Linked DNA regions of Homo sapiens: region 2 is linked to region 1. The links come from fine-mapping of genetic effects on gene expression. Tissue or cell type: whole blood. Region 1 holds a variant in brackets; the other region holds the start of a gene. All regions are shown on one strand. Distances are from middle to middle.

Evidence for each region. PIP is the estimated chance that this variant, and not a neighbour inherited with it, causes the effect.
Region 2: CEP126 starts here. The variant in region 1 is fine-mapped to the expression of CEP126 in whole blood (INTERVAL, PIP above 0.99).

Annotation. Positions count from the first base shown.
Region 1 is chr11:101,953,546-101,961,428 of GRCh38, reverse strand. It overlaps CEP126 (centrosomal protein 126), which reads right to left. Exons shown (of 11, transcript NM_020802.4): 5 at 3,063-3,261. It also overlaps the pseudogene LOC100418997. Among named protein-coding and RNA genes, the nearest start is that of ANGPTL5, 41 kb to the right of the region's middle. The variant A/G (reference allele first, on the strand shown) is at 4,116.
Region 2 is chr11:101,910,238-101,918,120 of GRCh38, reverse strand. It overlaps CEP126 (centrosomal protein 126), which reads right to left and starts at 3,111. Exons shown (of 11, transcript NM_020802.4): 1 at 2,709-3,111. The coding sequence starts at 2,836. It overlaps ANGPTL5 (angiopoietin like 5), which reads left to right and starts at 1,599. Exons shown (of 9, transcript NM_178127.5): 1 at 1,599-2,102. RefSeq lists an enhancer at 3,093-3,192.

The DNA.
Region 1 (7,883 bases):
CTTGAAGGCTTAGTAATAGAAAGTGAGATTCTGAAAAATAATTATTTATAAATTGTATTTTTTTCCTAAAACATTCACTGGACTTGAATGAGGCTCCTAAAAGCTCTGTGATCCTAATGTGAGTTTCCTGTTAGTAGGGGCTACATCTTTTTATAAAACTTAATTTTGTGGACTGTAGTAAGGCTGTTAACTCTGGCTACATGTTAAAATCACATAAAGAACTGTGTAAAATATCTATACCTGGGTCCTGCTGATTTAATACTTGGATGGGGTCCATATACTGGTATTATTTAAATTCCCCAGGTAATTTTCATATGGGTTTAGGCTCAAAAACTATTGACTTTAATGACTCCTTTTGGAGGTTTAGCATAGTAGTAATTTCCATAAATTCCATAGACATTTACATCACTATTTCACTGAAATTTACATGAAATTTGTCAGTCTTTAATAATATTTCAAAATTACTTCAATGTATGGTAAATGTTTAAAAATATTTCTGTTTTCTCACACATACCTAGCATGCATTAATCTACATCACATATATAGAAATAAATTTTAAGAAGACATTAAATTGTATATCTAGTCAAAATGCTGAATGGAAAGAAAATTGATATCCCTTAAGATTTATCATACATTTTAGATTTATCTAAAATATGTAAATTTTAAAAATTTACATACTATGGTATTAGACAAAAGTACTTTCTTTTTCTATCCCAGTAAGTAAACTAAGAAATAAAGTAAATAAATTACAGAATAAAAATATTTTAATTTATATAGTTAGTTCTTATTGATTTAGTATTGTGGAATAAGTTTTAAAAATTATTCATGAGAGTTTTATATTTTTAGCATTTAGTCCCTATTTATCACATCCTTTGGCATACTTCTTAAAGTGATAATCACTCAACCCAAACAGGGAACAAAACAAAGCATAGCTACTTCAATGCCTGTTCTTGGAAATAAGTTGTTTTAACTGATAATGATGATGAAATCAGGCCTGGAAGGCATCCTTTGAGGTTACATCTAGTGAGACACAGAAATTTGCGTTAGAAGATCCTTCTAGATATAAGTATGACATCCATGGCTCTAAGATTTCCATTTGCATAGGTCTGTAATTGCTTCATCTCCCAAATCACCTCAGAAGAAGTTTGGCAACTTCTGATTTCATAAACAATACTTTTTTTTTCTTCAGATTTTTTCCCACCACTAAATAATGAAACATTATGATCAATTTCAAGTTTTGCTTATAAGTTACATTTAGCGGTCCGTCTTATCTTTATTGCCCTGCATGTAACATATCTTTTTTCCCTCTGGCTTTAATCTGATTTTTAGGTGCCTTTCTGTGGTATGTGTGTGTGCATACACTTATCCTTCTTGGAGTTTGTTGGGCTTCTTGAGTCTGTGGATTTATAATTTTCATCAAATTTGAAACATTTCCAGCGATGGTTTCTTTAAACATTTCCATTCCTACTTTGTGAAATTTTATTTAAATTTTATTTTTAATTAAATGTGTTGATGGCTTTATATGGTCTCACAGGTCACTAACAAACTGTTCATTTTTTTCCAGCCTTTTTCTCCCAAAGCTTCAGCTTGGATAATTTCTATTGCTATGTTTTCAAGTCCACTAATCTTTTGTTCTGCAATGACTGCAATGTTAAGTCCATCCAGTCAATTTTTCATTTCTGATAGTATGTTTTTCAGAACTAGAAGGTCTGTTTATTTCTTTTTTCAATTGTCTTTCTTATGTACATTTTTACTTTAATTCCTTGAAAATATTTGTAAAAATACGTTAAAATTCCTTGTTGGTTAATTCCATCATCTCTGTTATTTCTGTCTGATTATATTGACTACTCTTCTCCTGGTTATGCGTCATATATTCCTGATTCTTCACATGTCTAGTAAGTTTTGATTGAATGCTGACATTGTGAGCATTATGTTATTGAGTATTTAGATTTCATAGTCTTCTTTAAGAAAGTGTTGGCCAGGCATGGTGGCTCATGCCTGTAATCCCAGCATTTTGGGAGGCTGAGGCGGGCGGATCATGGGGTCAAGAGATGGAGACCATCTGGCCAACATGGTAAAACCTCGTCTCTACTAAAAGTACAAAAATTAGCTGGGCGTGGTGGCGGGCACCTGTAGTCCCAGCTACTCGGGAGGTGAGGCAGGAGAACTGCTTGAACCTGGGAGGCGGAGGTTGCAGTGAGCCGAGATTGCACCACTGTACTCCAGCCTGGTGACAGAGTGAGACTCCATCTCAAAAAAAAGAAAGAAAAAAAAAGGAAAAAAGAAAAAAGTGTTAAGTTTTTTTGTTTAATAGGTAGCTTGGGTTACTAGTGGATCTTTTTAAGGCTTATTCAGGCAACATAACTACGTAGAAAGCCTAGGTTATAAGGCTTACATCATTTCTTTCCCCTTTTCAAGATCACATCCTGCACTGCCTCTGACCCATGTCTACAAGCAGTTGTTTTATTTATTTTGTTCATAATTATAGTTGTTTATGGTAGGAAGGCACATCACGATAGCTGCCAGGAATCTTCTGTTTTGCTTTCTTAGCCTTGCCACTGTTGATTAATTGTTGGATGAATCAGGCCAATGTTATGAATTTAATCTTATATTGGTTTATTAAAAATCTCATAAATGTGCATAATTATTAATGAAAAATAAAGTACATGGATGGACATGTAGGAAAATCAGCTGATATCTGTATTCAGTTGTGGAAAAAATAAAGTATATGCCCTACTAGGGATAGATTACAAACATCATTTCTAGCAAATTCTGCCATATTTCCATTAAGAAACTAATATCTACATGTATTATAATTTTCTGGTTGCTTTTTATAATACAATCTCTAACAATAATACATTACATTGTACTTTCAAAGGTAAGGAAAAAACTAAAAAATTATTTCTATAGTTTCTATGATGAATTTGTGCTGATTCATCCACACTGTCTTTCATGGCCTGCTCTCAGCTAGTAAGATATTTCTTTAGTGGAGAACACTGCAAAAGTGGAGCAAAATTAGTGCAAGGAATTAAAATATTAACAACATTTTTATAGTTTCATACTTGCAAATTGCTTAGATGTTGATCTTCGAGGAGTTTCTGAGTTTCCTCCAGTTTAAGCTGGAACACATTTTTGCTAGTAGCCAAGGTTGCCCTCATGTTTTCATTCATTTCTTTCTCACAATTGATTTTGGATAAGAGTTGTTTCTGATGCTTGTGATCATTTTTTGATAATGCGGAAGGCAAGGCAGAATCTATAGCTCTGTGAACCAGACATAAAAAGTGCTTAGTACATTTAAATAAAGTTAACTTCTTTCTATATGTATATACATGACACATTAGGTGTAATACGTGTGTGTTTGTCCAGATAACCACATATAAGGATATTGGAGAAATATATAGACATGTTAGAATGAGAATTTAAGGCAATCAATAGTAGAATAAAAGTAGTTGTGAGACTAAAGTACCAGTAAAGAACTCCACCTTCATATAGGAATGCCCAGTAATTCATGGCTTTGATTATTATAACCTATCCCTCTATAATCTGGGATAAGGGTAGAAGTAATTCCTGTGTAGAGTCAGTCCTCAGGTCTTTAAGAGCATTCCTATATGGATAATAATATACTGCATTACCCTTCTTTCTGAGTTGATGTCATGGCTAGTAGGTTAGGAAAAAACTGTAACCCTAATAGTGTTGGTTGAAGATTCAAGCAGATAGAAAATATAAAAATTGCTTGTCAGGGTCAGCAGGAATTTCCTCCCTATTTAACTAGCATTGGGAACTTGGATCGTCCTCAATGGAGGCCAAGTACTCACTTATTTTCAGTTATTTCAGGAATATAAACAGGAATATAAGCATGGTTTTTATGCCACAGAAGCGTACCCTTAATATAGAGTCTACCTTTACTATGCTAAAGGGCCATCCAAACATTTTCAGTGCATGACATCATTTTCTATTAGAATTTTGTATCTTCTGCAAATCTATAGCATGTTAGATTTCAGCACATATACAAAGTGAAAGCAAAGAACTAAAGAAGAGTTTTGGGGGAGGATAGGATGGGGATGAGACTACCATATAGCTGAATGCTGCTGCACTGGGGCTGGCAGTGTGAATCC[A/G]AAGAGCATTTATTCCTAATTCAATTAAATTATTCCCACTTTAATGAGAATAAAAATGTTTTGGAAGGTGATAGTGGCCACATGTGATATATACCTATTCCCTATCTCCAATATCCATATATATATCTTTATTTGGACAGACTGGAGTAGTCAAGGTCAATGATTACTAGATTAACTATCCCTTTGTGATCACACATTTAATCAGGGAGAGCAAGAAGGTATTTAATACAAGTTCCTGAACATTGAGAGTATGTTTCTGTCTCTTCCTTTTACACTTTCCTACTCTTAGATAATCCTTCCCCTTCAGTCGCCCTTCCCAAACAAAATATTGCTATATCTACAAAATATCTAATAAACTCAATTTATTTACCTTTAAAGTTGTCGTGTCTCAACTTTCTTCTCTATTCCTTTCTTCTCTACTCCACTTTCTTCTCTTCTCTTCTCTACTTTCTTCCCCCAATGAGGAGGATTGAAGGGGTGGATAGGAATAAAAGGAGATGGGGAGGTAGAAACAGAAGGAGAGTGAAGAATAGGGGGAAAGGAAGAGGAAATCATAAAGGAAGAAGAAACAGGAGAAACTGGAGAGGGAAAAGCTAAATAAGTTGGAGGCAAACCTGGAGAGGAAGATGAATGCAAAGGAGAGGAAAAAAGAGGGATAGATGAAGGAGGTAAGGATGGAGAAGTAGAACAGGAAGTCGAAGAAGAGGAAAGAATAGATGAGGAGGAAGAAAACAGTATACAGGCTGAAGAAAAGGATGTGGAAGTAGAAGGAGATGAAGGCAAAGAAGAAGATGGAGAATGACAGGGAGATGCAAGGGAGAGAACTGAGGCTGGTGGATGATCTGCAAAGGCCTCGGGCTGATTTGACAATGCTGTGGCTTGTGGAACAGATTGCTGGACTGACTGAAAAGGATCCAAGCTAGCAGGATGTGCAGGCAACGGAGTGACATAAGAAAGAGTGGGGACTGGTGGATAAGGGGGGTGACTGGATAAACAGGAAGGCTTCAAAACAGGGAGAGGTTCCAAAGGGGTTGGGGAAACAACCAGTGGAGCTGGAAGGGAACGACGAACAAGGGTAGGCATTAGAGTGGCTGCAGTAGAATGCTGTGCTGGAAGGAAATGTTTGGGTCTGAAAGTTTTGTAAAATAACTTGTGCTGTGACTCAGGGTCAGGAATGATTGGAGAACTCTGGGGTGCGTGGGGTGGATGGCCAGGTGGGCAAGAAGGAATTGGTGCTGGTAGACGAGGGAAACTGCTAGAAATGCTGGAAGTAGCCGGGGTTGGAGGACAAGGATGATATTTAATTGGGTAAGGCAGTAATGGGACTGGTGCAAAGGTCTTTGGAAGAGTAGAGGGTACAGATGGATGGATAGGCAGTATATGGGGCTGGCGGGCAGGAGAAACAGTTGGGTAGCTAGGAAGAATTTGGAAGTGGTGGGACCGCAATGGGACCCGTGGAGGAGACAGTTGATCAGGTAAGTAGGGGTCAGGTGTGGAGACAGCTGGACAGGCAGGAATGGATCTGCACAGGTGGAAAAGCATTTGGACAGGCAGGCAGAGAGACAGCCTTATTAAGATTATTTTTTTTGGTTTATTGGGCTGCCTCTAGGCTTTTGATTCATGTTATTTTCTTGTCCATAGGGTCCATGTATGATCATCCTTTGATCAACCAGTGTCCTCTCACATGTACTGAAAAACGTACATAGCTTATTCAGGTTCGCCATTTCTTATTTCTTGCTCTTAGAGTATTTTCACTTCTCAGAAGCCTTTTACTCACACAGATACAGGAATATGGGCTGGACAATCTGGTTTAAAGCATGAGTTCAAAGGGCAAATAGAGGTCAATAGATAACTGCTCAGCTCTGGCCAGATTTCTCAGTGTAGCACGTAGTTCAGGATCAACTGCCACACTACAGATACATGGATATTGGAGATAGATATCTAGCAGTATCATTTTATTAAAGTTTAACCATTTAATATGGGAGACAATATATCCCCTTTTACTTTACACCTTCCAGAATGGTCAAGCATATTAGCTTTATGATAAGGATTTGATGGTGACAGAAGACTAATTACTTCTTATATTTTTAACTTTACTCCCTTATTAATATTCTTATATCTCACTATTTGCTGAAGCAGCTTCTATGTTCATGAGAATATATTCTCTGATTTATCTTAGGGCTTAAGCACTAAATGCCCTGCACTTTATCATATATTTTTTTTCTCTTTTACATGATCAGATTGCCAACATCTTATTTTTATCTACCACTAACATTTTCCACATTAGAATAATCTTACTGATATACCTCTGCTTCTTTGTAAGCCCCTTATTTCTTGGCATTACTTTATTTCTTAACACATTTAGGTTTACATTCCACTGAAAATGTATTTTTAATGTGATAGTAGTTTATCAATGGTTTCAGCTTAATTACATTTTCAATAAATAAAAATATGTCCATTAACCTAACACCTGATTCTTAATATTCCAATATCTCATATTTATATAGAATTTCAAATTTTACAAAGCACTTTCATATACATTACTTAAGATTATTGGTTATCTGTGGAGAGAAGTCTAACTTTTTAATAAGTAAATCATAGTGTTCTCACTATACATTGTATACACTTGTTGTTTTCCAAATACATAGAATTTATGTGATATATATATGTATATATAAACATACACACACAGATAGATATAGATATCATGAAGTCAAAGTCAAAATAGTATGTTAAAATAACATGAAAACTAACTAGGTATTCTAATGCACAATGAAGATCATTTCTATAAAACAAAGATGATGTGTGTTATTTAATGATCCTAGCATAGACTTGCTGTAATCATATATACATGTTTGCTGCAGGGAAAGCAAAGTTGTTCTGACAGTTTAACTCTTCTAAGACTTCAAGCAACTGCACACTGTTGAACAAGAAAAACGCCTATGCTTTTCTTCATTCTACAAGAGTTTTTAAAAATTGAAAATATCTGTCTGGGCATGGTGGCTCATGCCTGTATTCCCAGCACTTTGGGAGGCCGAGGCGGGTGGATCACGAGGTCAAGAAATCGAGACCCTCCTGGCCAAAATGGTGAAACCCAGTCTCTACTAAAAATACAAAAATTAGCTGGGTGTGGTGGTACGTTCCTGTAATCCCAGCTACTTGGGAGGCTGAGGCAGGAGAATTGCTTGAACCCGGGAGGTGGAGGTTGCAGTGAGCCGAGATTGCACCACTGCACTCCAGCCTGGAGACAGAGTGAGACTGTCTCAAAACAAACAAACAAACAAACAAACAAAAAAGGAAAATAATTCAATTAACATAAAGTATAACAACTGATAGAAAAAAAAAACCTGAAAGTGAAGAAGCCCTGTATAGAAAATGTACATTGCTTCTACATTAACTGGTTTAGAATTTTTAAAATTAGTCTAAATAAATCCCGGGACTCCCTCTAATTGTTTGTCATCTCTTTTCAGACAAGCTTTCCTATAGAGTACTCTAAAATTATATTGACACATATAATATGGTAGTAAATTATATTACTACCACAACTTCCACTTGTCTCTTAACCCAACTGTTATCTGGCTTCCACCTCTATCACTTCAATGTACTACTTTGCTTGTGGTTAACTAATTACCTAGTAATTGCAAAAATAGGTATTTCTTGACCACTATCTTTCTTGATTTTAATTCCCTTGGTTTCCGCATCATCACATTTCCCATTTATTTTCTTACTTCTCTGGTTGTTCCTTCTCAGGCTCTTTCTTGAGCTCCT
Region 2 (7,883 bases), 43 kb after region 1:
GTGAGCCTGGGGGGAAAAAAAGACAGGTGGGTGGGAGTGTGTGTGTTTGTGCTGTTTGTTGGAACAGACCTGTCAGGGCATCCAAGTCTTATCAAGTGGTAAGACAGTCTATCGAGTGTGATGGAAGGTGACAGAGACCTGGCAGAGGCATTCATAGGAAAAAGAAAGAACCCTGTTCCTGTTTAGGTGAAGCTGGAAACCATCAATCTTTAGTGGTACAATCTGTATTGTTTTGTGATTTTTCTTTGACAGCATTTTTATTATTCGCATGAAGGAGTAAAGGAGCAGGACTATAGTAGTTATTGAGTGGCTGAGGCAGAATGATTGGGGTACAAATAGCCAAAGATGTTGGTGAGAGAAAGTTCAAATAGTTAAGAATAGGGTATAAACTGGAGAGGAAAGGAGAGGCAAGGTGGGTGCTAGGATAAAATGGGAGGGTTGAAGGGTAGAGATATTTATGAGGAAAAAAAGGCAGGTATAAGGGGACATGAGAGACCTTCCTTTTTTTTTTTTTTTTAAATTCCATTTCTATTTGAACTCTCAAAAGAGAAAAAGAGATTGAAATGACAGAACTTTAGCTAATTTTAATTAAATAAACTTCATAAGGTTTTGTTGTTTTATAACCTTTAGAGTCAGAAAATTCTGACTCCAGTGAGAAAATGTCTTCAACAGAAAGCCAGATGGCCTCTGAGTATCATGTTCATATTTGAAATTGAAATGTAAATGTTACCACATACTTGCTTATTTTAAGGCTGTGGTCCTTTCATTTGCTTTCTTTCCTTTTTTTCATTTAGTCATGTAAATTTGAGCACCTACTCTGTGCTAGGTATCCAATGGGAAACATTATAGACACAAAGAACATTCCAATTAAACTTATATAAAAGGTACTTTAGTGTTTTTCCAGCTAGCAAACATAATGTTCTTGATTTAGTGTTATAATCTTTATTATGTTCAAAAATAATTCCTCTGTTCCAATTTAAATATATATTATCTAAACATATATATACACACATATGCAAACTAGCAAAAATATATATAAACCAGCACACACACACACACACACACACACACACACACACACACACACACACATTGTTGGATTTTATCAAAGTCTATTGGTCATCTATTAAAATGTTCATTTATAACTTGCCTAATTTTAACTATATATTTAGCCTTTAAGGATCTTTTTTAGTGTTGTATTTCTTTATAGGAAATGTCATTCTAATTCTGGAATAGAGTCTATTTGGTTGTGTTCATTCAAAGTATTGCTGGATTCTATTTATGAATATTTTCTTTGGCATTTGTATCAAAAATTTATACCACATAAAATTTAAAAAATGAGGCCTACAACCATTTTATTAATGAAAATAACAGAAAATACACTCTCAATGAGCCATTTACAATACTTCCCTATTTTCTGATTTAGAGATAAATCAGGGTCGTGTAATAGCAGTTGTGTCCAAGAAAATATAATGTCAAGAGGCCAGAATTAAATCCATACAGAAAATGATTGTGTTCATTTCAGAGTAACCTTTAAGAGGGCAATTTTGGGGAGCAGCAAGGGCAAAAGCCAAACTGAATGGGGTTAATAATGAATAGATGAGAGGAACTAGAAGCAGCTATTGCAAGCTACCATTTTGAGAACCTGCCCAAAGAAAGAAAAGACTGAAGGGATGGAAGATTGCAGAAAGCATGATCGGAGAAGAGATATTTTACTTTTAGTGAAGCTCTATACACATTTGTCTTCCTCACTAGATTTGTATCCCTAGAACCTAGAACAGAGTCAGCCAAAGAGCAGGCACTCAATACAAATTGTTGACTTGCTGCTAAAATTGTAACAGAGTACAAAGAACATCCTAGAAATTGGAGACAAAGGGGATAAGAAAACAGAGTTAACTTGGAAAGAGAAGACACTCATCTCTGACAAGACTGAAGATGATTACACAACACCATCATTGCCAACCAAGTCCTTTGGGAATACAAAGGTTAAATCCTAATCATCACAACAGTCTCTAAAGGAATAAACCTGATTTACAGATTTTGATAACAAAATACTTCTCCTCTTTCCATTTTCTACAATGCAACCAACAGCAACATCAAAGGTAGGCTTAACCAACTCTTCGAGAAAAGTCAGAGTTAATCCAGATTGTAAAGCGTCCAGGTCCCCTGTTTCTCATTTCCTCTTTTCTGTCGCTCTGACAACAGACTGGGCAGAGATGGAAAACAAAACAACTTACCAAACTGTGTAGCCTTTAGCAGCTCTGGTAAATGCATTTAGGGCTGTGTTAGGATAACTGTTAAAACGGACTCTTTAGGATAGCAAAACATTTTACTTATTTGTGTAATTTCTCTCTCCAAGTAGTACGATAAATCAGGAAGTAGTTAATATGTAAGTAAAGAACATAATGGCATAAAAATATCCCCACAGAATACACAGTTGATGTGTTTTAAAATTCACAAAAATTTTACAAAGTTGAAGAATGGGAGTAGGATAACAGGGTGATGGGGGGAAGCAGCCACAGAATTAGATAAAATGGTATAATTTCAGGTCTAAGGTGAGACACGACAGTTGCTAAAGGAAATATCTGCACTAAGATGACTTGCTAGTTTTGATCACCCTGCGTCAAAGGTAATGGGAATCTAATTGGAAAAAGATGGGCCCCGTTTTCAACATCGCTACCCTGGCAGCCACAGGCTGGGAAGGATACAGGTAAGAGCCAGGTCGGTGATGCCCGCCGCTCTCCCGAGGGCCGAGGGGGGCTCTGTCGAGGTTGTCCGATGATTCAGTGCCCAGTTCCCCGACCGCGCTCCGGGTTCCGGGCCTCCCCGCCAGCATCCTTCACTTCAGCGCCGCCTGTCTGCTCGCCCCCAGAACCTCCCTCATGGCAGCTCCGGCTTCCTCCTCCTCCTGCTCGGCCCCTCCCTACACTCCGTCTCTCAGGCCCCGCGTCACGGGCGCGGAAGGGTTGGCCTCGACAGCCCTAGCTCCCGCGCAGCGGCACTGGTGCCTGTAGCGGCGATGGCAGCTGAGGCAGCGGCGACCTCGCCGGGCAATAGCAGATGGGGCGGCAGCAACCCTGCAGCCGCCATCTTGACAACAACCGACGGCGCGTCCTTGACAACGGAAACCTGGGAGGAGCTACAGGTCGGGGCGGGACGATGTGCCCGAAGCAGCCAATCGCAGGCTCCGGCGGCCCCTCCAGCTTCGAGCGGCGGGTGGCAACCCAAGCATCCCTAGGGACCCGGGTTGTTGCGCGAGGGGTGAGCTGAGTGTTGTTTTAGAGCCTGATGCAGTTCTGCCTCCCTTTTTATGAGAGTGTTTTTGTGGCAGTACCGACAGTGACGAAAGACAGATGTAAAATCCTCAGATACAGGCAATTGCCACCGGGAGGAGTCTGCAGTGATTGTCTGGGGGACAATTTGGAGTTGAATTTGTTAAACTACTGAATCCTGTTGTGAGATTTTGAGTTGTGAGTCTTTCTGTGGCATCATCATCCCCAAACACCGTCTCTTTAAAATGTCTTTGTGAAGTGGAAATTTTCCTTCCCTGCATTCTCTCATCCACTCGGTAATGCTTCTGGCATTCCCTCTGCAGTCGTCTTCCTTGCCTTTGCCCTACTTAGAAGGTCTACATTTCAAAGCCTCCTAATGGTTCTCGCATTGCTGCCAGATTCTGGAAATGGACCATCACAGCAAAACTAGCAATCTCTTGGGAAGATATGCCAAAAGAGATCATCGCATTGAAATGGTTTTGGGAAGTATGGAAAATTAAATGGATTTTTGAGACACTAGTTTATTGGCTATGCAAGTGACAGTTTTGAAAAAGGCTGAATCTTATTGTTGGAGCCTAATGTAAATGCATATATAAATTCTGACTGTATTTCAGTCAGTGTTTTCTTGGAAAAATTCCCAGATTGGAAGCAGAAAGTACAGACCAAATAAAGATTATTCACCCACCATTCAAATGTCTCTGCCTTTGTGAATTAATTTGTTCATTTTAAGATTTCAAATAATAAACTTTTCCAGTTGAAACTGTTTAAAACAATCTTTGCAAACTTGGTTGCAATGACTCAAATTGGAATGTACACTGGCGACAGATTTTAAAGTGCCACAACAAATCCAGTTTCGATTTAAGACACAAAACACATGAACTCTCCTTCAGAAGCATACCAACAGGATAAAATATACAATTCTGACATGAAAAGCTAAATGTATACAACTGGACACTTGGCTATCTTGGCAAGTTTTTAATTGGCCTAGCCACAGGCAATGGCCTTGATTCTATTCCCACTGCTGTCATCACACGTTTGTCTCCCCATGGGTGATCTGAGTAAAGTAGGGCAGTGCAAAGTACAGATGAATATGAGAATATTAGAGTTGCTATTTGGAATATTTAGGCATGGTTAGCTTTCCAGAAGTCCAGCTTTTGCTATATTATTAGTTTGCGATCTCGTAAGTCCTAGGCATCTCACTGCTTTGTGGCTTGGTATATTAGCACTAAGAAGCATAATTTGGTTTCTCAATTGCCTATAAATCCTTTCTTACGTTAACTTAAAAAAACACGTAATTTATGAATCTAGAAAGGAGAGGAAAGGGTTACAGCCTGAAAGGAGGGCCATCCCACAAGCTGGGAGTGTGCCTCCAACTGAAGCCTAAAGAGGCAGGTACTTTGAAGGAGGGATGTTGAGGTAGGAGATTTATGCTGAAAAGTTGGCTAAACATACATAATTTATAGGATATAGGAGGAGCTATGAATATTTATGAAGGTAGTTCTGATGCATGTATATTGAACAAACAGTAACATATGACCCATGTTCATTTTGGGCTGGAGACTTAACATTTAATTGCATTACAATTAGGCCCTATTATGTCTAAATTTTTTTTAGGACACAAAGGCACTCAAGTGAGCAGTCCTCTTAAACTGGCCAGAACCACCTCATGGTTGGTGATGTTCTCATCAGGAGAAAGTTATTGAAATCAGTCTGTTGTCCAATCAAAGCTGTAGTTATGGCTTATGGAACAGAGGGTCAGTTAGTCAGTGTCTGGTGGTGAGCTACGATTGTTTTACTATTGCTTATCTCAAGGCCAGTGTTTGTTTAGCTGCTAGAGAAAAACAGAAAACTTGTGGAAGTTAAACATAGTTTATTCTTTAAGTGTAGGAGTGCATGACTTAACCCTTGCCTGGCATGGCCTTAGGTCCTATTTGTAATTTGATATCTTACTGCCACCAAGTGTCTGTTCCGTCAGTCTAATGATCTCTACTTTAACGTTAATCCTGGTCAATTGTGTCCAAACTACAACAGGAAGAGGATATAATGAGGCATAGCTGACCTTCCATCCCATTATGGCTGGGAACTCAGTTTTAAGGTTTTCCCAGGGTCCCCTTGGCCAAGAGGGGGTCTATTCAGTCAGTGGGGGCTTAGGATTTTATTTCAGTTTAGACTTATATAATTATTCTTCATTCAAATATTGTTTTACGGTAACAACCAAGAAGAAAAGAAATTTCAAACAATGTTGCCAGTTTTTTTAATCATAGGTTTTTTCGACCTTTAAATTCTTTCTTTATTTCTTCAAAATATTAAGTGGGTTTTCCACATTCTATTTAAGTTGTAGAATCCTAGATTCTTATAGAAAGGCAGGGCCCAAGGGGCTCTGAACATCATGATGCTTGATTTTGTCATGACTTTTTTGTCAGTGTTATTTATGGAAAAAGGCTTTAGGATTAGATATTTGGATAATAAAAAATTTGAGGATTTTATCAACTTCATCTCTTGACAGGAAAGGCAGTTGTGATTCAAGCAGTAAAGAAGAATGTTACCCTAAAATCCCTATTTTTTATCAGAAGGGGCATCTGAATTAAATACAATGTTATATTCTTTCACACTTTAAAACCATAAAACAATTCCTTCTTTTGCTAAGGAAATATATATTGAGCACCTACTATGTGCCAAGCACTTTCCAGGTGCTAGGGATACAGTGAATAAAACTTCAAAGTCCTTATGTTCGTGAAGCTTATATTTATTTTTCTTCCCCACTAGAACATATTAGGGTAGTGAAAAGTGCTACATGGAAAGTGGGATAGTGAAGGGGGATAGAGACCAATGTCAGTTCTATCTGTGAGAGGGTGCTCAGGAAAGGCCCCAAAGGAAGGGAAATTAGGACAGAGGTCTGAATGAAGGAAAGAGGTTGCCATTCAAATATCTGGATGAAGAATAAGGGCACAGGGGTCTGTGAGTACAGAAGACTGTGAGGACAGAATCATACTGTTGTGCTCAAAGAACAGCACAAGACCACTGTTGCTGGAATAGAGTGAGGTAGGGTGTATTAGGCAGTTCTCGCACTGCTATAAAGAAACACCTGAGAGTCGGTAATTTATAAAGAAAAGAGGTTTTATTGGCTCATGGTTCTGCAGGCTGTACAGAAAGCATGGCAGCATCTGCTTCTGGGGAGGCTTTAGGGAGCTTTTTACTCATGGTAGAAGGAAAAGTGGGAGCAGGCATCTTACATGGCAGGAGCAGGACTGAAAGAGAGAGGGGAGGTGCCACACACTTTTAAAATGACCGGATCTCATGAGAACTCACTTACTATTGTGAGAACAGCATCAGTGGGGATATCTGCCCCCATGATCCAATCACCTTCCATCAGGCCCTACCTCCAACATTGGGGATTACAGTTTGACGTAAGATTTGGGCGGGGAGGCCTGGCATGGTGGCTCACGCCTGTAATCCCAGCACTTTGGGAGGCCAAGACAGGTGGATCACCTGAAGTCAGGAGTTTGAGACCAGCCTGGCCAACATGGTGAAACCCCATCTCTACTAAAAACACAAAAATTAACTGGGCGTGGTGGCAAGCGCCTGTAATCCCTGCTACTTGGGAGGCGGAGGAAGGAGAATCGATTGAAACTGGGAGGCAGAGGTTGCAGTGAGCCGAGATTGTGCAATTGCATTCCAGCCTGGGTGACAGAGCAAGGCTCTGTCTCAAAAAAAAAAAAAAAAAAAAAAAAAAAAAAAAAAAAAAAAAAAAAAAGATTTGGGTAGGGATGCAGGTCCAAACCATATAATAAGGGAAGTGTGCTAACATATGAGATTGTAGAGGTACATGGCCCAGATTTAGTGGCGACTTGTATTGTATGCAAGGACTTAATGTAAAATCCAACTTTCAATGGAGGGAAATCCATTTGAGAGTTTTGATTAGAAGAGTAACACAATTTTATTGAACCTTTAAAGAGACCCTCTAGTTGTTGTGGGGAAAACTAGGTTGTAGGAGATAAGACCAGAAACAATAAGGACAGTTTTAAGGTTACCAGAGATGGCAGACTTGGACTAGGATGGTAGCAGTGGAGGTGGCAAGAAATGTTTACAGTTTGAACCTTGAGCCAATAAGATGTGTTGGTGGATGGTTGCAGTAAGCGAGAGAAAAAAAGTCAAATGTGACTCAGATTTTTGGCTCAAACAATTGGATAAAGTGTGTTGCCATTACTAAGATGGGAAAGAATAGGTAGGGGTGGAATAAGGAATACGAGTTAGGCTTCAAACATGTTAAATGTGAGATGTCTATTAGACATGCAATTTCATTAATGTGGTCTCATAAATCGTTGATGTTTTATTTACAAAGGAAACTAATAATAACCACTTTATGGTTATAAAGCATATTCACATAACTTATCTAATTTGAATATATATATATATATATATATTTTTTTTTTTTTTTGAGACGGAGTTTTGCTCTTGTTGTTCAGGCTGGAGTGCAATGGCATGATCTCGGCTCACCACAACCTCTACCTCCCGGGTTCAAGCAATCCTCCTGCCTCAGGCTCCTGAGTAGCTGGGATTACAGGCATGCGCCACCACGCCCAGCTAATTTTGTATTTTTAGTAGAGACAG